Regions from separate parts of the Homo sapiens genome. Here all the other regions are linked to region 4. Evidence: fine-mapped expression QTL. A gene starts in region 4. Each other region holds a variant in brackets. All regions are shown on one strand. Distances are between the middles of the regions. Region 1 overlaps NOL10 (nucleolar protein 10). Region 2 overlaps ATP6V1C2 (ATPase H+ transporting V1 subunit C2). Region 3 has its middle 110 kb from the start of ODC1-DT. Region 4 holds the start of NOL10 (nucleolar protein 10). Region 5 overlaps NOL10 (nucleolar protein 10).

Evidence for each region. PIP is the estimated chance that this variant, and not a neighbour inherited with it, causes the effect. A credible set is the group of variants that fine-mapping cannot tell apart.
Region 1: its variant is the best candidate, but not a certain one, in a credible set for the expression of NOL10 in testis (GTEx, PIP 0.52).
Region 2: its variant is the best candidate, but not a certain one, in a credible set for the expression of NOL10 in whole blood (INTERVAL, PIP 0.87).
Region 3: its variant is the best candidate, but not a certain one, in a credible set for the expression of NOL10 in whole blood (INTERVAL, PIP 0.72).
Region 5: its variant is the best candidate, but not a certain one, in a credible set for the expression of NOL10 in whole blood (INTERVAL, PIP 0.78).

The regions. Positions count from the first base shown.
Region 1 is chr2:10,588,408-10,593,537 of GRCh38, reverse strand. It overlaps NOL10 (nucleolar protein 10), which reads left to right. Exons shown (of 21, transcript NM_024894.4): 18 at 3,787-3,960; 19 at 4,248-4,495. Among named protein-coding and RNA genes, the nearest start is that of NOL10, 99 kb to the left of the region's middle. RefSeq lists an enhancer at 3,146-4,345. The variant C/G (reference allele first, on the strand shown) is at 2,160.
Region 2 is chr2:10,731,239-10,736,238 of GRCh38, reverse strand. The region is part of intron 3 of ATP6V1C2 (ATPase H+ transporting V1 subunit C2); the gene reads right to left. Among named protein-coding and RNA genes, the nearest start is that of ATP6V1C2, 12 kb to the right of the region's middle. The variant A/TA (reference allele first, on the strand shown) is at 2,603.
Region 3 is chr2:10,552,248-10,557,377 of GRCh38, reverse strand. No RefSeq gene overlaps it. Among named protein-coding and RNA genes, the nearest start is that of ODC1-DT, 110 kb to the right of the region's middle. The variant C/T (reference allele first, on the strand shown) is at 2,120.
Region 4 is chr2:10,687,069-10,692,198 of GRCh38, reverse strand. It overlaps NOL10 (nucleolar protein 10), which reads left to right and starts at 2,224. Exons shown (of 21, transcript NM_024894.4): 1 at 2,224-2,403. The coding sequence starts at 2,338. It also overlaps the pseudogene RN7SL832P. RefSeq lists enhancers at 2,378-2,657, 2,718-2,777.
Region 5 is chr2:10,594,887-10,600,016 of GRCh38, reverse strand. The region is part of intron 17 of NOL10 (nucleolar protein 10); the gene reads left to right. Among named protein-coding and RNA genes, the nearest start is that of NOL10, 93 kb to the left of the region's middle. The variant C/T (reference allele first, on the strand shown) is at 2,470.

The sequences.
Region 1 (5,130 bases), 99 kb after region 4:
GAGATTAGAAGATACTAGTGTTCAAGCCACCATCTTTACTCAGAAGTCTGTACCAGCCTAACTTCATAGGTATCATAGCATTGAAAGAACTAATTTGATTGGCCGGGGTGCAGTGGCTCACGCCTGTAATCCCAGCACTTTGGAAGGCCGAGGCAGGCGAATCACCAGGTCAGAAGTTTGAGACCAGCCTGACCAACTGGTGAAACCCCGTCTCTACTAAAAACACAAAAATTAGCCGGCCGTGGTGGCGCGTGCCTGTAATCCCAGCTACTCCAGGAGGCTGAGGCAGGAGAATCGCTTGAACCCGGGAGGCAGAGGTTGCAGTGAGCCGAGATCACACCACTGCACTCCAGCCTGCGTGACAGAGCAAGACCCCATCTCAAAAGAAAAAAAAGAAAAAAAAAAAAACTAATTTGTTTCAAATGGCAATCATTCTTCATATATGTTACTATGTTGGAACAAAATAATAATAGGCGTCCCACTCAGGTAGACAGATACCATTCTTCCAGGTAGGACTGTGGTATGAATAGTACTTTAATGTTTTCTATATTTTAATGGTAAAGTTGAGCATGTGTAGACGGGTATTTATAGGACGGATCACTAGCCAGACACTTGTAAGCTCCTATAGAACATTAATAGCTATACCTTATCCTACTTTTTTCCTTAAGACAGCTGTGAAAACAAACAGACTAGGAAAAAACCCTGAGGGAAATATTTTTACAAGCTGGGTCAGAAGAGGTTTTATTTTATAGTTGTTCATCCAAAGCATACTTGTCTTTAGGCAATGCAATTGATTTGTTTTAAATTAAGAAAAAAATCTTAATACCAGCAACATATGTAGTCTTTGTAACATTTTCTCTATTTATTAAATATGATTATTACTTTAATAAATATAGTAAGATGAAAAGTAAATATTTGCCCTTGGGTTTTTTTAACCTGAAAATGTGTAATAGGCACATAGTTATTCATTTGAAATTATCTTTCACACTATCATCTATCCGATATCTACAGATAACTCCAAAATTTACATCATAGCCCCCTCCCTTCTCCTGAGACATGGCGCATCGTTCCCAGACACCTAGTGGTGTCCGTCTGAATCCTGGTGCTCTTCTCCCTGTGCCACAGGCATAGGCAGCCCTAAATGGAGCGTGATTTCTTCCCCTTTACTCCACCCCTGCGTTTTTTCCTAATGCTCTCCAGTGATGGATTCTAACTCAGTGTCGCCAGCTTTCTGGTTGCTTAAGCTACATGTTTGAGAGAAGTTTCTAACCCTGTTTTTAATTCTTAACCCTCCCATCTCCATAGCTGGATCTGTCAATTCTAATTTAGAACTGTATCTCGTAATTATTCTTTCTTAAAAACTGTCTGTTCCCATTGCCCTAATTCAGGCCCTGTCTCTCTTGCCAGTTTCTTAAAATGGCTTCTTAGTCTTCTCATGATGCTAACTTCTTACTCAGCAGTCCGTCAGACATCAGGCTGCTGCAGACTTTTGAAGCACAATTTTGGGTTGGTTTGTTTGTTTGTTTGTTTGTTTGTTTGTGACAAGGTCTCTCTGTTACGCAGGCTGGAGTACATGGTGTGATCTCAACTCACTGCAGCCCTGACTTCCCAGGCTCAAGCGATCCTCCTACCTCAGCCTTCCAAGTAGCTGGGACTACAGGCATGCACCACCACGCCTGACTAATTTTTTATATTTTGTATAGACAGCGTCTCACCATGTTGCCCAGGCTGGTCTTGAACTTCTGGCCTCAAGCAGTCCTCCCACCTCAGCCTCCCAAAGTGCTGAGATTGCAGGCATGAACCACCACCTGGCCAGTTCTGTCATCTGGGAGTCTTGAAGCACACTTCTGTTGATCATCCATCTTCTCCTTCCTCCCTCCTTCCCTGTCTCCCTCCTTCGTTTCTCTTCCTTTTTCTCTTCCTCTTCTTCCTCCCCCTCCTCCTCTTCGCTAGTGGTTTCCCCTTATATCTTCAAAATAACAGTCATGGTATTTAAAATCCTTTACAGTATGACCCAATCAAAAAATTGTTTTGAAATTGCATCATTCTTATGTCGCCAGACTATTCACCACTCCCATCGGCTGGAAATGCTGTTTCTTCAGATTTCTACTTGTTGAAACCTACTCATCTTTCAAGCCCCCTCCCTGATGCTGCACCCC[C/G]CAGGGCCCCTCCTGGGGTGTCTTTTGTTGGGATTCCTTTTTCTGTCCTCTCCTGTGGCACTTTCAGCACTACCGAGCAGCCCTCAGAAGAGGCCTAGTAGCACGTGTTTGCAGTGTTTTTTCTTCCTTACTAGTTTAGGATCAGGAACTCGATCTTACCTTTCTTTTTCCCTTCGTTGTAAGTCTTTCTTGGAAATGATGTTTAATCAGGGAAACTTGCTGCATTTAATATCTTAGAATTTTAGGTAAGGGTTTATCTGTTTTTAGGTACATACAAATAATAAACAGGCCAAGTTCCTTAATATCTTATGATTTACTAAACTTTTGTATAGGTCTGTCACACAAATAATATTCAGAACTCAACTGCCTGCAATCTTGTTTACTCTCAACAGTGGAGAAATAGTAAAGTAGTCTGTTCAGCAGAGTCAGAGTCCATCACAAACAGGTCAGCTTTTTCCAGCAGTGTTCAGGGCTGTTTACTCTGATTGACAAACAATTCTGAGTAAGCCGTTTCATCTGGCTTCCAAGCCTGTAGCAGAGAAGGAACAATAAGACAGTCCTAAATGTGTAAGATTCTCTGTCATCTACTTAAGTGAACAGGTAAGTTTACAGTACAGTTTAGAAAACTTTCCATTGAAAATGGTACAAATAAAAAGGAATTTAGTATCAGTCCTGAGCTATCTAAATGGGTCTCAGTAGCCAAAGTTTTTGTATCTGAAGGATACACAATATCCTTTGACAACAATTAGTTGACCTGAGGGGGAATATTGATGAAACAACCCTGTAGGGGATGGAAACGTCCCTTCTGTTTCCCAGTAACTCAGCTGGAATCGGTAAACTGACATCACCAGCTTCCTGCATCCCACCATGTGAGTTACTGACTTTGTATACCTCCTCTCCCAGTTTTGGAATCTGAAGTTGAAAGAATTGCTTATTTTAAGTCAGTGTAGTAACTAAGCTTTATTTAAAAGCCCTGTTTTCAGTGGCTCATGCCTGTAATCCCAGTACTATGGGAGGCCAAGGCACGAGAAATTGCTTGAGCCCAAGAATTCAAGACCATCCTGGGCAACATAGTGAGACCCATCTCTACAAAAAATAAAAAATTAGCCGGGTGCGGTGGTGCACCTGTGGTCCCAGCTACTTGGGAGCCTGACTGAGGTGGGAGGATCACTTGAGCCCAGGAGGTTGGGGCTGCAGTGAGCTGTGATTGTGCCACTGCACTCCAGCCTGGAGTGAGACCGTATCTCTAAAAAATAATAAAAGCCACTTTTTAAAAACCTAGTATCTTCTTGAAAGGTGTTTTTTTGCATTAAAATGTTAATTGAAGAAATTCTTTCTAATCTGTTAAGCATAAAGTTAGCCAAAAGGGTCATTCTTGGCTCATTGTGTGTAATGGCCAAGTGGTGTAGAGCATCTGCAAAGTAGATTAATAGAGGTTGTTTTGGTGGTGGCAGCTAAAACCTAGGGGCACGTTGAAAGTCCTGGAAGAAATTTCATAATGAGTTAATAATGTATGCCTCATGCCGCTTATTAACTTATAATAGAATCAGTGTTTTAAAACCATGTTTCTGGTCAAATTTTAGTCAGATATTAACTTAAATTTTTACGTACTTTTTCCTCCTTGTAGAGTCTTCCTAATATTCTCACCGATGATCGATTTAAAGTTATGTTTGAGAACCCTGACTTCCAAGTAGATGAAGAGAGTGAAGAATTTAGGCTTCTGAATCCACTTGTTTCAAAAATTAGTGAAAAAAGGAAGAAGAAACTAAGACTCTTAGAGCAACAAGAACTTCGTGAAAAAGTAATGTACTCCTTATCAGTTAGAATTTGCTACTGTTTCTTTAATGTAATGTTTTCTTTGTAAGTTAGAAGAGTCTTTGATTATACTTGAGATGTAATTAATTCCATATTAAGTGTTTGACATTGGGCTTAGGAGTATTATCTTATTTATTTAAAGGCATTTCTCCTGATGCATGCAGTAGAGCAGCTGTTAGGCACTCATTAATGGGCCAGTGCTGCTTCAGAGAAACCAAGGGGTCTGTGTTTGACTGGGGGAAAGGAGTTGCTGCTTACTATTTTTATTCTCAGGAAGAGGAGGAAGAGCCGGAAGGAAAACCAAGTGATGCAGAAAGTTCGGAGAGTTCAGATGATGAAAAAGCCTGGGTTGAAGAGGTCAGGAAGCAACGCAGACTCCTCCAGCAGGAGGAAAAAGTGAAGCGGCAGGAACGACTCAAGGAGGACCAGCAGACAGTCCTAAAGCCCCAGTTTTATGAGATCAAAGCAGGAGAAGAATTTAGAAGCTTCAAAGATTCTGCCACAAAGCAGAAACTGATGAAGTGAGTAGCACTGCCTGAGCGCACAGTTGACATGTAACCAAGCCCTTGCTTTTCCTCTCTGGCACATTGCCCTAAAGATGACATTTCTGTCTTTGGATGATGGAGGTGCAGAGGGTGGAGGGGACGAGGGAAGCAGGGGAGGTAAGGCCGTGCAGGAGGTGATGTGAGGGAAGCACCCAGGAGGCCTGAGGGGAGCGTCGCTATTGAAGTACATTGGTCTCTAGGGGATTTACTTATTTGTCACAACTTTTTGAGGTATAGTTTACATGCAGTAAAATACAGGGTAGAGAGAGCCTTATGAGTATCAGTGGAACACTTTTAAGCTGCAGAAGCCACACACTTTCCTTGTCCTTGTTTTTTCCCCATGGGGTTCCCTCACCTACAAATACTTACTCTGTGCCCTACAGATCAGTGGTTTGAAGCCTTTTGGACAGTGGTTGCTAGGAGATGACAACTTTTCTGCTTCTTCACAAAGTTATTTTAAAAAATTAGAACCTCGGTTATGTTTACCCCATCTCACTTTACCTGGTTATTGAAAAGGTTACTTGGAAAATTTGCCAGAAATTTTAAGTCTTTTTCAGGAAAATTGAGAGATCGAAAAGAGTAGTATTCTAGAATAGGCAAATATGTAGAAA
Region 2 (5,000 bases), 44 kb before region 4:
CTCATTACCATTCAAAGCAGCTATCCTCAAAGCACAGTGGCAGGGCCCGCAGCATCAGTATCACCTGGGAACTCGTAGAAATGCAGGTTCTCAGGCCCCAACTCAGACCTCCTGAATCACAGATTCTCGGGGTGGAGACCAGTGATGTATTTTTAACAAACCTTCAGGATGATTCTGATGCATACTCAAGTTTGAGAGCCGTGAGTTAACGTGTTCAGCCTTAGTATGCCAAATGTGGTCTTCAGGCCAGCAACACCAGCATCACTGGGGAGCTTGCAAGAAATGCAGAATCCTGGCTCCAGCCCAGATCCACTGAGTCAGAATCTGCATTTTGTCAAGGTCTCCAGGAGGGCCTGGCACAGTGGCTCATGCCTATAATCCTAGTACTTTGGGAGGCCATGGTCAGCGGTATCATTTGAGCCCAGGAGTTTGAGACCAGCCTGGGCAACATAAAGAGACCCCCATCTCTACAAAAGAGAAATGAAAAAAAAAAAATTAGCCAGGCATAGTGGCACACTCCTGTAGGAGGCTGAGGCAGGAGGATGGCTTGAGCCCAGGAGTTCAAGGCTGCAGTGAGCTGTGATCATGACTAACACTAGCATGGGTGACAGAGCAAGATCCTTTCTCAAAAAAAGAGAGAAAAAAAAAAAAAAGACCAGGAGATTTGTTCACATGTCCAAATTTGATAATAATTCTCTAGAGCTCCAGCCCAAAGCTGTGCATAGAAATATAATTCAAGCCACGTGGGTAATTAAAAAATGTCTAAGGCTGGGCGTGGCAGTTCACACCTGTAATCCCAGCACTTGGGGAGGCCGACGGGGTGGGCAGATCACATGAGGTCAGGAGTTCAAGACCAGCCTGGCCAACATGGTGAAACCTCATCTCCACTAAAAACACAAAAATTAGCTGGGCCTGGTGGCACACGCCTGTAATCCCAGCTACTTGGGAGGCTGAGGCAGGAGATTTGTTTGAACCCAGGAGGGGGAGGTAGCAGTCAGCCAAGATCATGCTACTGCACTCCAGCCTGGGTGACAGACCAAGACTCCATCTCAAAAAAAAGGTCTAGTCACCACATTTAAAAAAGTAAAAACAGGTTAAATTAACTTTAACAAGATATTTTATTTATGTCAAAATATATATTTTTTTCTTTTTTTCAAACAGGGTCTCACTCTGTTGCCAAGGCTGGAGTGCAATGGCTCGATCACGGCTCACTGCAGCCTCAACCACTCGGGCTCAGGGTATCCTCCCACCACAGCCTCCTGAGTAGTGGGGCATACAGTCACACCCCACCATGCCTGGCTAATTTTTTGTATTATTCGTAGAGAGGAGGTCTTGCTATTTTACCCAGGCTCAGTAAGCCATTTTAAATGTCTAGATTTATAAATACTATTAAGTGTTTTCATAAGTAACAATGATTGATAGTACAATCGGGGAGGAGGGTGGAATGGAAGAGAAAAAGGCCATTTTCTGGTCAGTTCTACCGATGACTCCGAGCTGGAAGCATCGTGGAAAGCCCAGGGCACAGAGTCCCCCAGGGCAGATGGACCCAGACAGGCAGACCATTAATGGCAAGTTGATGGATCTGGAGTGTATTCCCTCCTCTGCCACCCCTGTCTGCCTTTGTCTTTCTAGGATCTTCTCTCTGGGCCTGTTTCCTCATTTGGAACTCTTGCAGGTTAGATAAGATCTCTAACGGGCTGCCCAGCTCTTATAACCCAGGATGCTTCCCTCTATTCATCCATTCAATCAGTCACCAAGGGCCGCCATGTTACAGGTGCTAGGGATCTAATCATAAGCAAAAGACAGGGAAGAAAAATATGACCAAATAATCCCACAAGAAGACGTCAAAATCCACTGTGGCAAGTGCCATGAAAGAGGGGAGCACCGGGTGTGTTAGAGAGGGTAAATCTGTGAGTGTGATGGTAGAGGGTGTGGGAAGAGGTGGGGAAAAGAGTCTCCAGGAGCTGGGAAGGAGGAAGAGGGCTCAGCAGGGGCAGATGGGAGGAGGAGGGGTGAAGAGGCTTGGAACAGCCGCCATGGAAAGTGGGAGCCCAGCAGACACACACAGTAGGGCTGCCAGCAGCTTAGAGCAACCCACCATGCATGCGGCATACAGAGACATGCAACCGCGGTCTATTCACTGAATCCCATGAAATGCCACATAGGTCATCTCAATCTGACATTCTTCCACCAACAGAGAAGAAAAGCCTATATGCTTTTTACAATTCCAGTTTACTTCTCTTTAGAATGCCCTTACAAGAACTGACTCACACGTATCACTAAGCAGACATCCACACTCAGCTATGAAATCTTTGATCAGCCAACCCTCAGTCAGCTCCATGGAACCATGTGGGTAAAGAAGAAGCCAGCAGCTATTCCATAGACAGGGGAAGCACTCAGGGGCAAGCAACGACAGGGGAAGCACTTAGGGGCAAGCAACGGTCACCAAGCACCACAGCACCCAGAAGGTCCTGCTGAGGTCCCGCTGACCGCCCCAGCGCCTGGGAAATGCACTCTGTCAATCAACACCGCAAAACAGGCTAAGATACTGTGAAGGACTCAAACTTTTTTTTTAAAACAGGGAGAGAGGTTTTTTTTTTTT[A/TA]AGATAATAGCATTTGGTTTTTCAAATGTTCATGAATGATAGGGCAAATACAGAATAAATTAACAAAGGCAGTATGAAGGAATAAATTAAAAAAAGAGAGAGAAAGCTCTCGTAAGCAAAAGCTGCCTTCCAACTACATGGAAAAACACTCTAGTGCCCTAAGTAAATAAATAATAAAAGGATATTGAAACAATACACCCTGAAAACGCTTGTGCCTTCTCTGTTCTCCTGGGCAGAAGCAGTGCTGACAGGTTTATGCTACCGAGGTTACAGACCCAGCTAGCATTTATTTACCTAATAACACTCGAGGACTTTTCAAAGAACTGATGCCATTCTCCAGATTTATTAGTACATATAACCCACTCTTTTACCCCAACCTCTACCAACTCCCAACACAGGACACCCTGACCCCTGGACTAGAAAAAAGCTAAGATTAGAATTTTGACGTGCTCAGACCACACCATTTTCCTTCCCCCTGATAGGAAGGCTCTTAAGAATATATACCCACAAGGAAAACGAAAACAATGCACAGTGATTTTTCATTCTTGCCACACCTAGTCCTTATTGTTTAGAAAACACTTAAATTTGCACAGGTTCTATCTGTTTCACAATTATAGCCACAGTCTTGCCTGTTCACGCATTTTCATTTCTTTTTCTTTTTTTTTTTTTGAGACAGTCTTGCTCTGTCGTCAGGCTGGAATGCAGCGGCACAATCTCGGCTCACTGCAACCTCCACCTCCTGGTTTCAAGCAATTCTCCTGCCTCAGCCTCCCAAGTAGCTGGGACTACAGGCGCCTGCCACCAGGCCCGGCTAATTTTTGTATTTTTAGTAGAGATGGGGTTTCACCGTGTTGACCAGGATGGTCTCGATCTCTTGACCTCATGATCCACCCGCCTCGGCCTCCCAAAGTGCTGGGATTACAGGCGTGAGCCACCGCGCCTGGCCTTCATTTCTTTTTCTTAAACATATGCTATACTACCACTAAAAGCAACTTGTGCAACAAGTATGTACAGAACAGAACACTAATATACTTACTGGGGAAACAGAGCAAACAGACAAAAAAGAAACTAAAGTAGGGCTGGGCATGGTGGCTCACGCCCGTAACCCCAACACTTTGGGAGGCCAAGGCTGGCGGATCACCTGAGGTCAGGAGTTCGAGACCAGCCTGGCCAACATGGGGAAACCCCGTCTCTACTAAAAAAATACAAAAATTAGCTGGGCTTGGTGGTGGGTGCCTGTAATCCAGCTATTTGGAAGGCTGAGGCAGGAGAATCACTTGAACCCGGGAGGCGGAGGTTGCAGTGAGCCAAGATCACGCCACTGCGCTTCAGCCTGGGCAGTAGAGCAAGACTCTGTCAAAAAGAAAGAAAGAGAGAAAGAGTGAGAGAAAGAGAGAGAGAGAGGGAGAGGGAGGGATGGAGGGAAGAAGGGAAAGCGAAAGAAAGCAAGAAGAGCAAGAAAGCAAGAAAGAAACTAAAATGGAAACAATAACAATCCAGGATCACAGAATTTCAGAGCTAAAGGGGTTTTAGTGAATAAGAGGTTAAAAGACTTGCACTAGGACAGAAAATTGGTAGCAAAGACAGCTCTAGAATTGCTACCATTTCTGCAGCAGGTAGGGAACTATTCACACTTTTTTTTTTTCTTTTATTCTTTTCTTCCTGAGACAGGGTCTCACTCTGTTGCCCAGGCTGGAGTGCAGTGGTGTGATCTCTGCTCACTGCAGCCTCGACCTCCTGGGCTCAAGCAATTCTCCCTCCTCAACTTCCCAAGTGCTGGGACTACAGGCATGCACCACCACACCTGGCTAAATTTTGTATTTTTTGTAGAGATGGGGTTTCACCATGTCACCCAGGATGGTCTTGAACTCCTGGGCTCAAGCATTCCACCCATCTCAGCCTCCCAAAGTGCTGGGATTACAGGCATGAGCTACTGCGCTTGGCCCAGTTCACATTTCTTAAGCCAACCTTCCTGCACGAGACCAGTCTCCTTCTGCGGTTTGTCACTGCTGCCCAGGAAAACCTAAGGCATTCACTAGCCTAGGGCAGTGGGCTGTTCTCAATGGCATCTGTTACAGGCCTTTCTTAGGTTTAGCATTATTTGATTATGTGATGTGATTATTTTATTAATATGTGTCTTCTCAGCTAGGCCATAAGTTGTACAAGGCCAGTCATACCTCCCTGTGGTGCAGAGAAGCCTAAGAAGGGAGTCAACATTTCCGGATCAAGTCACTTTTTCTTGGATATTAACTTTTACAGGACAGGCCCTGAGATTTGATAATACTTGATTTAGCATGATTTTACTTCCCTTCATTCGTCTGAGAGCAGACAGATTTTATGAATGAGAGAGCCAAAGATTAGTTTTCTTTCTCAAAGACTATGAATGGTGGCTAGGTGT
Region 3 (5,130 bases), 130 kb after region 4:
TAATTTTTGTATTTTTTGTAGAGGCAGGGTTTCACCATGTTGGCCAGGCTGGTCCCGCACTCCTGACCTCAGGTAATCTGCACGCCTCAGCTTCCCAAAGTGCTGAGATTACAGATGTGAGCCATCGCGCCCAGACAGAAGTTATCATTTATTTATTTTTGCTCATCTTCCTCTACTAGAATGGAAACTCCACTGAGAGCAAGGATCCCATTTATTCTTTATTTCCGTATCCCCGGTGTCTTTGAAAGTGCCTGGTACGTACTGGCACAACGTTTCTGAAATGAATGAGTAGATATGGCTCTACTGGTGTCCTGTGACCCGCGTAACCAAGTGCCAAGAGCTGGGTGGCTCGCAACAACAGAACCCGCTCTCACCGTCCTGGAGGCCAGGTGTCTGACATCGAGGTGTCAGCAGGGCCCTGCTCCCTCCAAAGGCTCCTGGGGAGGCTCCTTCCCGGCCTCCTCCAGCGTCTGGGGGTTGCTGGCAATCTTTGGCACTCCTTGGCACTCCTTGGCTTGTGGACGCTTCACTCCAATCTCCGTCTCCGTTTCTGCCCAGAACTCCCTTGTGAGTCCGTGTCTTTGCTTTCTCAGGAGAATTGCTCATTCCAGCCGCAGTTCTTCCAGGGGGCGGTCTGTGCGCGTGAACTGCCTGAGCGGGGAACCCAGCCAGATCATGAACTGCCCAGGCCCCAGCTCCCGGCTTGATTTGCTGCAGTTTTCCTAATTGGAAGAGAAACGTATGCTGATTATTTTTAAAGACATAAATGTTACAGAAATGTAACAAAAGCAAGTGAAATTCCCCCCAGCCCCATCTCTCCCTGCTCAATGGCGTGATCGCACACATTTGGGGCTGGTGCCTCAACTCAGGCCTCTCATCACCCATGGAGGCCTGGGATGGGCAGAGCGTGACGTCAGGCACCATGGGGGGACTCGCGGGGGCGAGCTTTACCTTTGCTCTTAAGGAGCTCCCAGTCTAAAGAGGGAGACAAAAAAAAAAAAAAAGCCCAAGGAACTGTCCTAGCCAGAGGGGCCTAAAGAGGCCATGACTAAATGGCCTGTGGCTTTCTGCAGGGGATCCTGGAACAGAAAAGGACTTAAGGTGAAAACTGAGGAGATCTGAGCCAACAGTGGACCTGAAGAATGACTGTCAGTCCATTCATCGGAACAAATGGGCCGGACTCATGCCCCATGTTAATAATGGAGGAACCTGGATGTGGGGTTTATGGGAACTCCCTGTACTATCTTCTCAATTTTTCTGTAAATCCAAAACTGTTGGAAAAATTAAAATCCATTAAAAAAAAAAAGACACAATATAAGGCACCAAGGCAAATGGTCTGCTGAGACAGAAGAAACCAAGCCTCGGAGCTCCCCACCGGCTTACGCTGAGGGACCCCCGGAGGGAGGCCAGCTGGCCCTTGCAGCCACACAGGGTGAAGGAAATGAGTTGGGTGTTTCGGGAGAGAGCAACCAGATGTCCCATCTGGCTGTGGCCCGCATCCCTCCCCGCCAGGGCCCCGCTCGGTAAGCGGTATCTGCAGCCTTGGGAATGCCCCAAGGGGAAGGGGACAAGAGGAAAGGGAGTGAGACCATGGGATGGACCCGCGGGCCTTCCTGCTCTAGTTCCCAGCCTCTGCCTGCCCCACGGGAGGCTCCCTAAGTTCCCCGAGAGTGCAGGAATGCACAATGAGCAAATGCTGGTTGCTAGGCCTGCGTGCGCACAGGCAGACTCTCCGTTGTGTCTTTCGGTGCCTGCAAGAGCCTTGCGGGTCTGCAGCTCATAAACCCTCTTCACTCACCATCTATTTTGCTATTTTTTAATTGCCTGAGGTCAAATCCAGAAAGCAGCTTCTGAGATTCCTGCGGCTTCCTGCCCGCCTGGTGTCCTACGCTACCATTTTCCTGTGCAAACACTTGAGGGGCGTTGGGAGCCGAGGGAATTGGAGCAGCAGGTCCTGTTCCTTCCCCTGGCTGTGTGTTTAGGAAGGTCTTTGGAAACACAACTGTTTGGAAAAGTCTTGAAATAGGAAATAGAGTCCCAGCTGAGTGTCTAGGTTACATGAGAGTCAAAAAATATAAAACCATTTCCTCCAAGGTTGCCAAGTTTGGAGGGCCCACCC[C/T]GCTCTGCACATCCTGCAAATGACTCAACTTGAATTTACCTCCGTGACTCTTGCGCGACTTCCACGCGTGAAGCCAGCACCCAAAGGAGCACTGGGTGCCCCTGGCGTCCTGGACACCAGCCTCCCCTCCATCACAACACTGGGACCCTATCCCAGGCTGGGCCTGGCCCACTGCTCAACAAGCATCACACTGTCACCTGGGGCATCTGCAGAACTTTTCATCAGACAAGGAGAAATGGCCTGTCCCTTGCATGGGGAGAATTCCTCTGCTATTTTAACCATTTTCTTTTCTTTTTTTTTTTTTTAAGACGGAGTTTCGCTTTTGTTGCCCAGGCTGGAGTGCAATGGCGTGATCTCAGCTCACCATAACCTCCGCCTCCCAGGTTCAAGCAATTCTCCTGCCTCAGCCTCCTGAGTAGCTGCGATTACAGGCATGCACCACCACGCCAGGCTAATTTTGTATTTTTAATAGAGATGGGGTTTCTTCATGTTGGTCAGGCTGGTCTTGAACTCCCGACCTCAGGTGATTCACCCGCCTCGGCCTCCCAAAGTGCTGGGATTACAGGCGTGAGCCACCGCACCCGGCCTTATTTTAACCATTTTCAAACATGCAGCTCAGTGGCAGGAATCCATTCATTGTTGTGCAGCCATCACCAACATCCACCCCCAGAACTTGTTCATTATCCCCTGCTGAAACTTTGCACCCACAAAACACTCTCTATTTCCTCCTCCTCCCAGCCCCTGGTAACCGCCACTGGACTTTTCTCTCTATGAATTTGCCTCTTCCGGGTGCCTCATATCAGTGGAGTCATGTCCCTTTGTGTCTGGTTTTTTCACTTAGCGTAGTGTTGTCGAGGAGTCATGTCCCTTTGTGTCTGGTTTTTTCACTTAATGTAGTGTTGTCGAGGAGTCTGTCCCTTTGTGTCTGGTTTTTTCACTTAGCGTAGTGTTGTCGAGGAGTCTGTCCCTTTGTGTCTGGTTTTTTCACTTAACGTGGTGTTGTCGAGGAGTCTGTCCCTTTGTGTCTGGTTTTTTCACTTAACGTGGTGTTGTCGAGGAGTCTGTCCCTTTGTGTCTGGTTTTTTCACTTAACGTGGTGTTTTCGAGGAGTTTGTCCCTTTGTGTCTGGTTTTTTCACTTAACGTGGTGTTGTCGAGGAGTCTGTCCCTTTGTGTCTGGTTTTTTCACTTAACGTGGTGTTTTCGAGGAGTTTGTCCCTTTGTGTCTGGTTTTTTCACTTAACGTAGTGTTCTTGAGGTTCACCGGTGTGGTAACAGGTATTCGAGTTTCATGCCTGCCCATGGCTGACTAGCATCTACTGTGTGACTGGGCCTCACTGCACTGATGCGTCCCTCTGCGGAGGGACAAGTGGGTCGCTTCCACCTTCTGGTGACTGTGAATAACACTGCTGTGAACATGGGTGTGCACTCTCTGTTGGAGTCTCTGCTTTCAGTTCTTTTGGATATATACCCGGGCGTGAAACTGCTGGGTCATAGGGTAATTCTGTGTTTAACTTTTTTTCTTTCTTTCGAGACAGAGTTTCTCTCTTGTTGCCCAAGCTGGAGTGCAGTGGCGTGATCTCGGCTCACTGCGACCTCCGCCTCCCGGGTTCAAGCAATTCTCCTGCCTCTGCCTCCCGAGTAGCTGGGATTACAGGCATTCGCCACACCTGGCTAATTTTTTGTATGTTTAGTAGAGATGGTATTTTGCCATGTTGGCCAGGCTGGTCTCGAACTCCTGACCTCAGGTGACCCACCCACCTCAGCCTCCCAAAGTGCTGGGATTACAGGCATGAGCCACGGCACCCAGCCTGGGCTTTTTCCTGTTGCTGTCATTGAGGAATTGTAGTTCTTTACATGTTCTGGAGAGGGACATCACATTCTATGTTTGATTTTTATCCATCTGTGCACACATATCCAGAAGCAGAAATTCAAGTGTAGGGGGGCTGTGGGGGGACTGAGAAAGGCTTATATAAAAGGCTTGGCAACAAAATCAAATCAGCCTTTGCAGAGGTCCCTGTTCCTTCCATTCCCAAGGGAACATTCCAGAAACCCCCACTGTGGGCTGGGCTTCTCAGTCTTTTCTCCATGTCCTGTTGCAAGCCCGAGAGCCCTGAGCCCATGGGCCTGTGTGGTGGTGGTCCACAGCCTCCAGGCCAGGGGAGGAAGGGTAGACCTTGCTGGGCTTGGGTGCTCACCCGCCAGGCTCCCATCCTCAGTGCCCCTGGGAACCCTGTCGGCATCGCCTTGAGTGCCCCTGCTGTCTGTCTCCGGCCCCCCTGGGTCAGCCCCTTCCTGAATGCCCCTTGCACCCATCCGTGCCCGTCTTCTCCAGGAGCAGGAATTCGGCCTGTAATGGATGCAGTTTTATTATTGAGGGAGGCAGTGAGTGTGGGTATCAAAAAGGAGAAAGAAACCCACCCGGCGTTCTTCCACAGTGCATGACGCGGCTGAAGGATACAGTGGACTTACCCACTTCAGTGACTCCCAAATTATTCATCAGATTCCTCGAATTGTACACACATCCCAATTCCTCATCTAGAGGGCGTTTTCCACCTGGCATCAGCTCCCAGGGATTTTGGCCTTCATTGTCACTGCTTGGCTGGGAAGGGGAGGTGACGAGCTGCATGCTGGTGGCAGATGCAAGTTGAATTTGAAGGCCCCCAGCTCCAGGACTGGATGTGGTGCCTGCCCCAGCCTGTGGGGCACCTTAAGGGCCCTGTGGCTTTAAGAGCCAAGGCCGGCTCTGTCCCCCTGCTCAGCCCAAGTTACTAGAAGGCCAAGGCAGAGGCCTCACAGCCTCAGAAGGAACCAGCCCTGCCCACACCTTGGTCTCTGGCCTCCAGAACTGTGAGACAGGATGTGCCTGCTGTTTAAGCCCCTGGTGTGTGGTGCTATGTGACAGCAGCCCTGGCAAACTCACATACCTGGAAGCCCTGGTTACAGCCACGTGGTTTGTTGAAGTGGAGCTTGGGGGCCTAAAGGAGGGGCTTCTGCTCTGCCTACAGCCCC
Region 4 (5,130 bases):
TACATTGTACATTCAATGGGGACATTTTACAGTATGTTAATTATATCTCAATAAAACTGTTAAAAAGGAAATGTTAATGGAATTTGGATACATTTCCACTTATTTGGTATATGGCTTTATTTTCAGTTTTATTTTACAAACACTTACATGGTCTTACTATGTGCCAAGTACTGGGTTCCAAACGTTTTATAAATATGAATGTATTTCATCCTCATAACTCTGTGAAGTGGATACTACTGTTATCTCCATTTTACACAGGTACAGAGAGGTTAGGTAACTTACCTAAGGTCTTTCAGTTAAAAATGGCAGTCGGGATTTGAATCTTGCCAGTCTGGCTTCAGAGTCTGTGATCTTTATTTATTTTTCAAGAGATAGGGTCTTGCTGTGTTGCCCAAGCTGGAGTACAGTGTTAGTCACAGGCATGATCCCATTACTGGTGAGCATGGGAGTTTTGACTTGCTCCATTTCTGACCTGAGCCGCTTCACACCTCCTTAGGTAACATGGTGGTCCCTGGCTCTTGTGGGGTCACCATATTGATGCCAAACTGAGGACACCCAACGCTCGTTGCGTGCTACAGCCAAGAACTCCTGGGCTCAAGTGATTCTCCTGCTTCGGCTTCACTAGTAGCTAGGACAATAGGCCTGCACCACCAAGCCAAGCCAGAGTCTGTGATCTAACCATTCTATTATGCCACCTTTCCCAAAGATGTTTACAGTTTTTCTTAACTGTAACCAGTGTAGAAAATTAAAAATTTGTGGAGGATCTTAAATTTGAGGACAGAGTTAAGGAATATATCCCTACGTACATGGCTAAATGTAAATATGTAGCAATGCCTAATAGAGGCCAGGCACTGTTCTGGTACTCTGGGTAGGGGTGGATGGGGTGGATAGGGAATATAAGGACAAATGATATAGGGTCCACGAAGAACTCTCAACCTAATTCTGATGCAATGTGGTGTTGGTATTTGAGAGTTTCCAAAATGTTGTGGGTAGGAGAGCAAAACAATAATATTTGGGTTTTAGAAAGTAAGGCATAAAATAATTTGTTCATTAAATCAAAGGAAGTAAGAAGATCACTTGGGAAAGTTATAATCCAAAAATAGTTAAGTATTTGAGTTTCAGCAGGAGGAATGAAAACAGATTACTTTAAGGAAATATTTCATAATTAGAAATATCCAGGTTTAGATACTGAAAGTGAGGGCCAGAGATAGGAATGGGTTGAAGATGACGCCACAGTCTTCTTTTTTTTTTTTTTTTTTTTTTGAGACGGAGTCTCACTCTGTTGCCCAGGCTGGACTGCAGTGGCACGATCTCAGCTGACGGCAACCTCTGCCTCCCGGGTTCAGGCGATTCCCCCACCTCAGCCTTCAGAGTAGCTGAGATTACAGGCGCGCGCCACCAGGCCCGACTGATTTTTGTATTTTTAGTAGAGACGGGGTTTCACCATCTTGGCTAGGCTGGTCTTGAACTCCTGACCTCAGGTGATCCGCCCGCCTCGGCCTCCCAAAGTGTTAGGATTACAGGCGTGAGCCACCGCACCCGGCCTACAGTACTTCTAACGTAACATCGCAGAAACACTGGAGGAGAGAAGAGAATACACTTCCACTCGGAATTCGCACCCTGGTCGCCTTCATTCGCTGGGTTCACTCGCTGAACTGCCTCGCCCCCGCCCGGGAGGATGACATCTCGGCCTGGGCAGAGACTCGAAAGCCTCCTCCTGCCGCTCGGGATGCTAACAGCAGGGAGAGCTGTGTCTAGTTTTTTTTTTTTTTTTTTTTTTTTTGAGAGGGAATCTCGCTCTGTCCCCCAGGCTGGAGTGCAGCGGCGCGATCTCAGCTCACTGCAACCTCCGCCTCCCAGGTTCAAGCAATTCTCCTGCCTCAACCTCCCGTGTAGCTGGGACTACAGATGCCGGCCACCACGCAAGGCTAATTTTTTTGTATTTTTAGTAGAGACGGGGTTTCACCATATTGGTCAGGCTGGTCTCGAACTCCCGACCTCAGGTGATCCGCCCGCCTCAGCCTCCCAAAGTGCTGGGATTACAGGCGTGAGCCACCGCGCCCGGCTTGTGTCTAGTCTTGCCCGTAGCAGCGTCGCCGACAGCCACGCCGGGTTGTCAGAGCCTCACTAGTTTTTCTCCCGGCCGCCGCTCTTCCCGGATTCAGCCACCTTCCCTCTTCCGGGAACTTGCCCGCGTGTTCCGGCTCCAGGAAGTGCGTCATCAGTCGGCGCCAGCGGCCGCACGCCGCGGAGCAGGGGCTCGGAGGTCCCGGGATTACGGTGCTCGAGCACGCTGGTGGGAAAGGACCCGGGACTTGAACAGTGTTGTGCGGCGCCATGCAGGTCTCCAGCCTCAATGAGGTGAAGATTTACAGCCTCAGCTGCGGCAAGTCCCTTCCTGAGGTGAGTCACTTCCCGGCCCCCTCACTCTCGAGCTCTTGGGGGTCGTCCTCCTCGTGGGGCAGCCGCCCCTCTCCTCGGCCCTAGCCTCTGTTTTAGCTGGACGCTGGTCACCCCCCGACTCGGGGAGGCCCAGAGGCGGCTGACAATTTCCGGGGGAGGTGTCGGCATTGGGAGACAAGGACACTGCCGTCACCGCGCCAGAAACTGGACCAAGGGATAATCAGGGTCAGTGAGCTTTGCTGGAACTTTTGTAAAGTTCTCTGTTCCAGAGAACGCAACCATTTGGGCCTCTTTGGGTGTTCACAGTCCCTGCCGTACATCGAGGAGGAAAACGTGGCAGATTCGTTGACACATCTCTCCCCCATATGGCCATCAGCTGTTTGTGGAGTCCCTATCATTTGCCAGGTCTTAGGGATACAACAGTGAACAAGGGAGATACAGACTTCGCATCTGCAGAATTTATGGTGTAGAGGACAGTATTTTCGAGACTTGTTGAACTTAACCTGATTCCTAGTCTTAAAGTTGGAGAGGGCTTGGACAAGTCGGTAATTCTCTTCCAATCTTCTCGTGTTTAGTAATGCAGCTGAGATTTAATAATGCGTTTAATATGCAGCTGAGATCCAGCAAGGGGAAGGGTGACTTGTCCAGCATGACACACTTAGGCTCTGAAACTTGTCTTTTGTTTCTTATACGTGATGATCCAGCCTCTGTCCAAGCACTACCACTGAGCACTACCTTTTGTGGAAGCTCATTTCCATTTTGAGACTCTGCACTTGTTAGAAAGTGGTTTTCAAATATGTCACCTTATAGCATGCCACTGTTGGCCTGAGTCCTGCCCTTGGAAAACAGAATAAATATAGCTCTCCTTCCATGCGTCTGCTTCTACAAAAATTTGGAGCCAGTGCTTAGGTTTTTCCTTTCTTCCTAAAATTCTGGTTTGAATAATTCCCTGTCTTCCAGTTGTTCTTCACACCCCATGAGCTTTCTCATTTTGTTCATTCATTCTCCACATGTATTGAGAAGTTACTGTGTGCAAGCAACTCTGTTTTAAGTATTGGGATCTATAGTGGACATTTCAGATAAGGTTCCCTGTTGGGGAAAAGGGAAATAAACAAGTGAGCAAATAAGGCAATTTAAGGTAGTCAAAAAGTACTTTTCGTGGTGAATGATTAGAAGAGAGCTGTTTTGGATAAAATATTGAGAGAAAGTGTTTTGGATAAAACCTTCGGGGAAGGCCTCTCTACAAGAGGTGACATATGAGCAGAAACTTGGATGATGAAGAGGAGCCAGTCGTGTGAAGATGTGGGGAAGAGTTTTCAGTGCTGAGAACAGAAAGTGCAAAAGCCCCACATGGGAATGCACTGGACATGTAGGAGGACGGAAGAGGCACAGGTGTGATTGCACTATGCTGAGTGAGGGGGCGAGAGCAGGGTGGATGAGGCTGGAGAGGTAGGCCTGGTAGGAAAGGTAGGAAGTTCAAGTTTTATTCTTAGTGCTGCTGGAAGTCACTGTTGTGTGGGCTGCTGTGCGACAAATGTCTAGCTGGGGAGGGTTCAAGTCGGGATGAATTAGGTAGTCCAGGTGAGCGACTTCGGTGGCTTGGGCTTGCCTGGTAACAAAGAAGATGCTAAAACACAGTGAGATTCAGGACATACTTTGTAGATAGGGTAATGGAACTTGCTAATGGATTGGACTGTTGGTAGAGGGAAGTTGAGGTGACAAAAAGGAAGGAATCAGAGAACTCTTCAGTTTTGAGTCTGAACAAGTGGGTGCACGGTGGTGCTGCTAACTGACATGGAGAAGAATCAAGAAGGAACACATTGAAAGGTGGAGAGGAGGAACGTAGTGAGCAAAAAGAATCAAGATTTTTTTTTGAGGTCGCGTGCAATGGCCTGATGTTGGCTCACTGCAACCTCTCGGGTTCAAGCGATTCTCCTGCCTCAGCCTCCCCAGTAGCTGGGACTACAGGCACGTGCCACCACACCAGCTAATTTTTGTATTTTTAGTAGAGACGGAGTTTCACTATGTTGGCCGGTATGGTCTCGATCTGATCTTGTGATCCACCCACCTCGGCCTCCCAAAGTGCTGGGATTACAGGCATGAGCCACTGCACCCGGCCCAAGGTTTTTATTTTCAATAGTGAACATTTGAAGTTCTAATACATACCAAATGGAGATGTTGAGTAGTTAGCAGTTGCATGGATACTAGGATGGAGATTGCAGGTGAATTTACTGTCGTTATTTGGGACTAGGTGAGATCAAATTGTGAGAGAAAGAACAGAGAAGATAACTAGGCTGAGGACCTGAGGCAGTCTTAGCATTTGTCATCCAAGAAGAGGAGGGGAACCCAGCAAAGAAGAAAGAGTAGTGGGCACTGATGGAAGGGGAGACTGGGAAATGTGTAGTTTTGTAGAAGTAAGTGTTTCAAGGAGGAGGTGGTGGTCACCTGTGTCAGCTGCTACTGAGAGCTTCAGTAAGATGAAGGCAGAAAAATGACCATCGACTTTGGCATGATGCAGAGCGCCCTTGACCTTGGCAAGGAGCTCCAGTGGAGTGGTGGGGAGGGTAGCTTGAGCTGAGTGGATTTGGAAACCCCTGCTTGTCCTGTTTAATATTTTCTGGTTATTTCTTTGAGGTGTGGTGCCTAAACTACACGTGGAACCCCAGTTGTTGTCTGATCTGTGCAAATATTGCTTCTCTCCTTCTGGGCTTTACCTTTTTATTAATG
Region 5 (5,130 bases), 92 kb after region 4:
TTTTTTTTAAGCTTATTCTTTCTCTGTCCTCTGGTTTTTAACCAGGTACGTGCATCTAAGATGGGTGAGCTCCTTTTGTCTTCATTTCTGTTCATGCTTTTCAATACCCAGGGACTGCAACTGAAGGGTCTTGTTCCTAGCTCTTGGCACACTGCTTATGTAATCTTGGGCGATTGCTCGTCTTCATGGGGTCACAGTTTTTTCATCTGTAACATGCAAGGACCGGATATGGGCATTCTTAGAGCTGTGCTTTCCAAATGGATTCAGACTCAAGACTCCCCCTTGCTGTCTTCTGCTTCCTTAGTCTTTCCCTGCATCCCCTCATCCTCGTTTATTACATTCTTTTAGTATATTGTTTAAATTTTAATTTCTGGAAGCCTCTCAAGTAAATAGAGGACTTTTAGGTTTCCATTTTCATGACATGAATAGTATGCCAATGTTGAAATAATTCCTCAAACTTATTAATATTTGAATTTATGTCTGTGTGTAATGGCTCTGCACCTTCCTAAGTTACACCAATGTGTATAAATGAATATATATATCTTTAAGTGTTTAGAATACAAGTCTTTGCTGCTGTGTTGACTCTCTCCTCAGAGTATTCACACTGATCTTCTTGTTAGCTAAGCCTAAGCATGATTAGGGAGGTAACTTTTCTGCTTTGTAATGTCATTTTACAGTAAAAGCTAAATGGAAGTGATCTTTGGATGTACATGCCATGCCCTAAGGCTTCAGTAGATAGAGAGTAGAGCTAACTTAGACTGTAGATGTTTGCATTCCTATCTGTGTTTTATGCCAGAGTCTTTATCATCTGATAGAGGCAAGAATACTTAAGTTACAATTTAATTTTGCTACTTTGTGCAGCATGCTATACCAGAGCCTGTTTATAAGGCCCTGTGATTATCTAGATGCAGAAGTGCCCTTCCCTTCCCCCCATTTCTTTGTAGACCTTTGCTGAGGTTGAGGGCAGCCAGAGAAGATTTAGAATACCCCATAGTGCAGGATGGTGGAAATGACCTCACAAGTTGAACACATGCAGAGCAATCCTCATGGTCAGGTGGGAAAATTAGCATTGTTCCATGCCTTTAAACATTTTTGACAAAACATTAAAAACTCTCTTACTGTCCATTATAAATTGGAAAACTAGGATCTTTTCATTATATTGTAATTTAAAACATTAGGAATAAAGCCTAATTGAGTATTTTATTTTCTTTCTTTTATTTCTTTTGTCAATAGTACTTGGAACAGTGCTTACTTTTTTCTCCTCCTAAACTTTTGATACGGAGCCAGCATTTTTCTTTGCCTCAGCAAATTGTCATACTCACTTTCTAAGTTTGGATAAGCTTCCGATGTTTCATCCTTTGCTCTTTTGACGTTATGAATTGTCTCTGAGAGTTCCTTTCATGTAAAGTTTTTTGCCAGTGTCACTTCCACTGGGACACTTTTCTTCTTCTTGTCACAGCTGTTTTCCTCATTTGTTTTCAGAGGTTCACCATTACGTGGTCCCCTCACTACAGACTTAGAGTGCCAGCCAGTGACAGTAGCCACATTCCCTGTATTCCCACAGCCAGCTCTTTCTTCTATAACTCCCTTTAAATTTGATTCACATTTTTGTTGTTGCAGTTTTATCTTGTTGATTAGTTCTCTGTAAATTATTCTTTTTTGTAAATGTCACACGAGTTTGTCTTCGGTATCTGAAGAAGCAATGCAACAGTTACACACGCGTCCTGTCTGCAGGAACTGAACAGGAAATTCACGGTGCATCACACCGCCTGATGCAGTGTCCGGTCACTGACAGGCTTTGAGAAAAGCAACCCATTATTTACGTAGGGATTTGTGGACTAAAGAGCTCGCTGTGGAGTTATACTTTATGAACATACTCAGTTGATGAACAGAGATAACTGAAATTTGAACCGTCTTGTTGGGGCACCTGGTATTCTTTAACTGCATTCCTTAGCTACTCCTTCCTTTTGGCACCGTGCGAATCAAGAACTTGCCTTTCTGTTATCTCCAGTCACATCTACGTTCCGTTGATGTTCACTCATTTTGTTGCTACATATTCTCTAATTAACTATCAGGATGGCATTTGATTATTTTAAAACCTATTGGTGGGTCACCCTGTAAAGAATTACCAAGCTGTGTACCATTTTACTTCCAGTGAAAAGGAGGAAGAACCTTAGAAATTCCTATCTTCTTCCATCAAACAGCAGTTTCTCTTCAGCTCTTCATAGCTGGAAATGTGATCTTTGTAGCCATATCACGTGATAACAGAATTCTTCCAAAGAGTACTATTTGTAAAATGTGCCCCTAATCTTCTTGTTGGTGACTTCCTAGCCCAAATCAGACCTATTATCAGAGCTCAGTTTCATTCCAGAAATATTTATATATGGTCTTTTGAAAATCTGAGGCTGTGCTTGGAAAAAGTTTGTATAATTTGTTGTTGAACAGTTTCATCTTATGTAAAGTGAAGAT[C/T]GTAGAAATCACTCATGAATTAAGGAAAGAATCCTTCATTATAATTTAAAAGACTACTTGAAAGAATTGCTAAGTCTCATCAGCAGATCATTAGTCTCGCCTTTGAACTCAGCTCCTCAAAAGCTTGAGAACTTTACTAGCTGTGATACCTCCTGATTTGAAAGTAGGTATCTTGCAATACCAATTTGAAAGGTATGTTTTGCCTTGTCTGCAGCTGAAATTTATTGGAGACAGTGAAATGTGTTCCTAAATATTGCTGCCACTGAGAACACAAAAATCGAATAAGATGTTTACTGTATGGTTGATATTGAACCTAAAATGGGAAGTGGCCCACCACATAATGTCAATCAGTATTATATGGACATTATCCAAACTCAGAAATTTTGGTTGCATTAATTCTAGTTAACAATTAAGGCCGAGTGCAGTGGCTCACGCCTGTATTCCCAATACTTTGGGTGGCTGAGGCAGGAAGATTACTTGAGCCCAGGAGTTGGAGTCTGCAGTGAGCCATGATCACACCACTGTACTGCAGCCTGGGCTACAGGGCAAGACAGCATCTCTTTAAAAAAAAAAATGAATGAATGTATTTATTCTTTCAACAAATATGTATTGAATTTCCAGTATGCACAAACAGCTTTGAGAGGCATGGGCATCTGTGATCTGTTTGATTTGTGAGGGTTTGAGTTTTGGTTAGAGCTATTTTTCCTATAGGTATCATTTTTTGTATGTTAGTCTTTTTTGTCAGTTTCTTGCTGTGGCCTTAAAGTCTCTGATGAATGTACTTTTCTTTCATTCTGCAGCAGCTCAGGCAGGACTGTGCATGAGATCTCTAGGCCAGGGGTCTCCAACCCCTAGGCCATGGTACTGGTCTGGGGCCTTTTAGGAATCAGGCCGCACACCAGGAGGTGAACCTCAAGCTTCATCTGTATTTACAGCCACTCCCCATTGCTCACATTACTGCCTGAGCCCCACCTCCTGTCAGGTCAGTGGCCACATTAGATTCTCATAGGAGCATGAACCCTATTGTGAACTGCGCATGCGAGGGATCTAGGTTGCGAGCTCCTTATGAGAATCTAATGCCTGATGATCTGTCACTGTCTCTCATTAGCCCCCGATGGGACTTTCTAGTTGCAGGAAAACAAGCTCAAGGCTCCCGCTGATTTTATATTATGGCGAGTTGTATAATTATTTCATTGTTATTACAGTGTAATAATAATAGAAATAAAGTGCACAATAAATGTAATGCGCTTGAATCATCCCAAAACTCCCTCGCGCCCGCCCCCCGCCCCCCACCACCATCTGTGGAAAACTTGTCTTCCGAAACTAGTCCCTGGTGCCAAAAAGGTTGAGGATCACTGTTCTAGGCTATGTGTATTCTGTGGTTAGGAACCCATGGAAGAGATATTTTAGCAGTTTCAGGAATTACTAAATACCACTGAGAACTTATATTAAAGTAATACCTCATCTCTCTAGGGAATACAATTAGGTACAGATACTTTGGGTTGGATCAGGTCAGTTTTAACATCCAAAATATTATTTTTAAAGCTTTTTTAGTATCAATTAAAATTTTTGTTTTTTTTAAATTACAGTTATACATGCATAGTTTTAAAAACTAAACATTTCAGTCTGGGCACAGTGCCTAACACAAACATTATGGGCTCACACCTGTAATCCCAGCACTTCGGGAGGCCAAGGCAGGCAGATCACTTGAGGCCAGGAGTTTGAGACCACTCTGGCCAACACAGTGAAACCCCATTTCTACTAAAAATAGAAAAACTAGTTGGGTGTGGTGGTGCGTACCTGTAATCCCAGCTACTTGGGAGGCTGAGGCAGGAGAATTGCTTGAACCTGGGAGGCAGAGGTTGCAGTGAGCCAAGATCACGCCATTGCACTCTAGCCTGGGCAACAGAGCAAGACTCCATCTCAAAAAACAAACAAACAAACAAAAACAAAACAAAACAAAAAAACATTTCTGTAATCCCATCATTTTGGGAGGCCAAGGCAGGGAGGATCACTTGAGCCCAGGAGTTCAAGACCAGCCTGGGCAACATGGTGAAACCGCATCTCTACAAAACATTAGCTGGGTGTAGTGGTGCATGCCTGTGGTCCCAGCTACTCAGGAGGCTGAGGTGGGAGGATCTCCCTGCAAGGCCGCAGTTAGCCATGGTTGTGCCACTGCACTCCAGCCCAGTAACAGAGTGAGACTCTGTCAAAAACAAAAACAAAAAAAACCTAAACATTTCTCCAAGGTTTGTTAGGAATGTAGGCCATCCCATTGTCTGCCCCTTTTCCTCCCTCTGCCTTCCTCCATTTTCACCTCTTCTCAGACAACCACTTTTGCCTTTTTTGCTGATTATTTTGGTATAAATCTCTCTCTCTCTCTCTCTCTCTCTCTCTCTCTCTGCCCCCTCCCCCTCCCTCCCTCTTGCCTGTAGTCCTACCTCTTAACTTTTTAGTGTTAGGCATTATCTTTTGATAACTTTCCTTTCCAAGGAAGCTATATTGTGATTTTGATTAAGTTGGTATTCAGCATTACATTGTTGTACTTTTGTTTTTTGAGATAGAGCCTGTTACCCAGGCTGGAGTACAGTGGCAGAATCATAGCTTACTGCAGCCTCAGTCTCTCGGGCTTAAGTGATCCTCTCACCTCAGCCTCTCAAG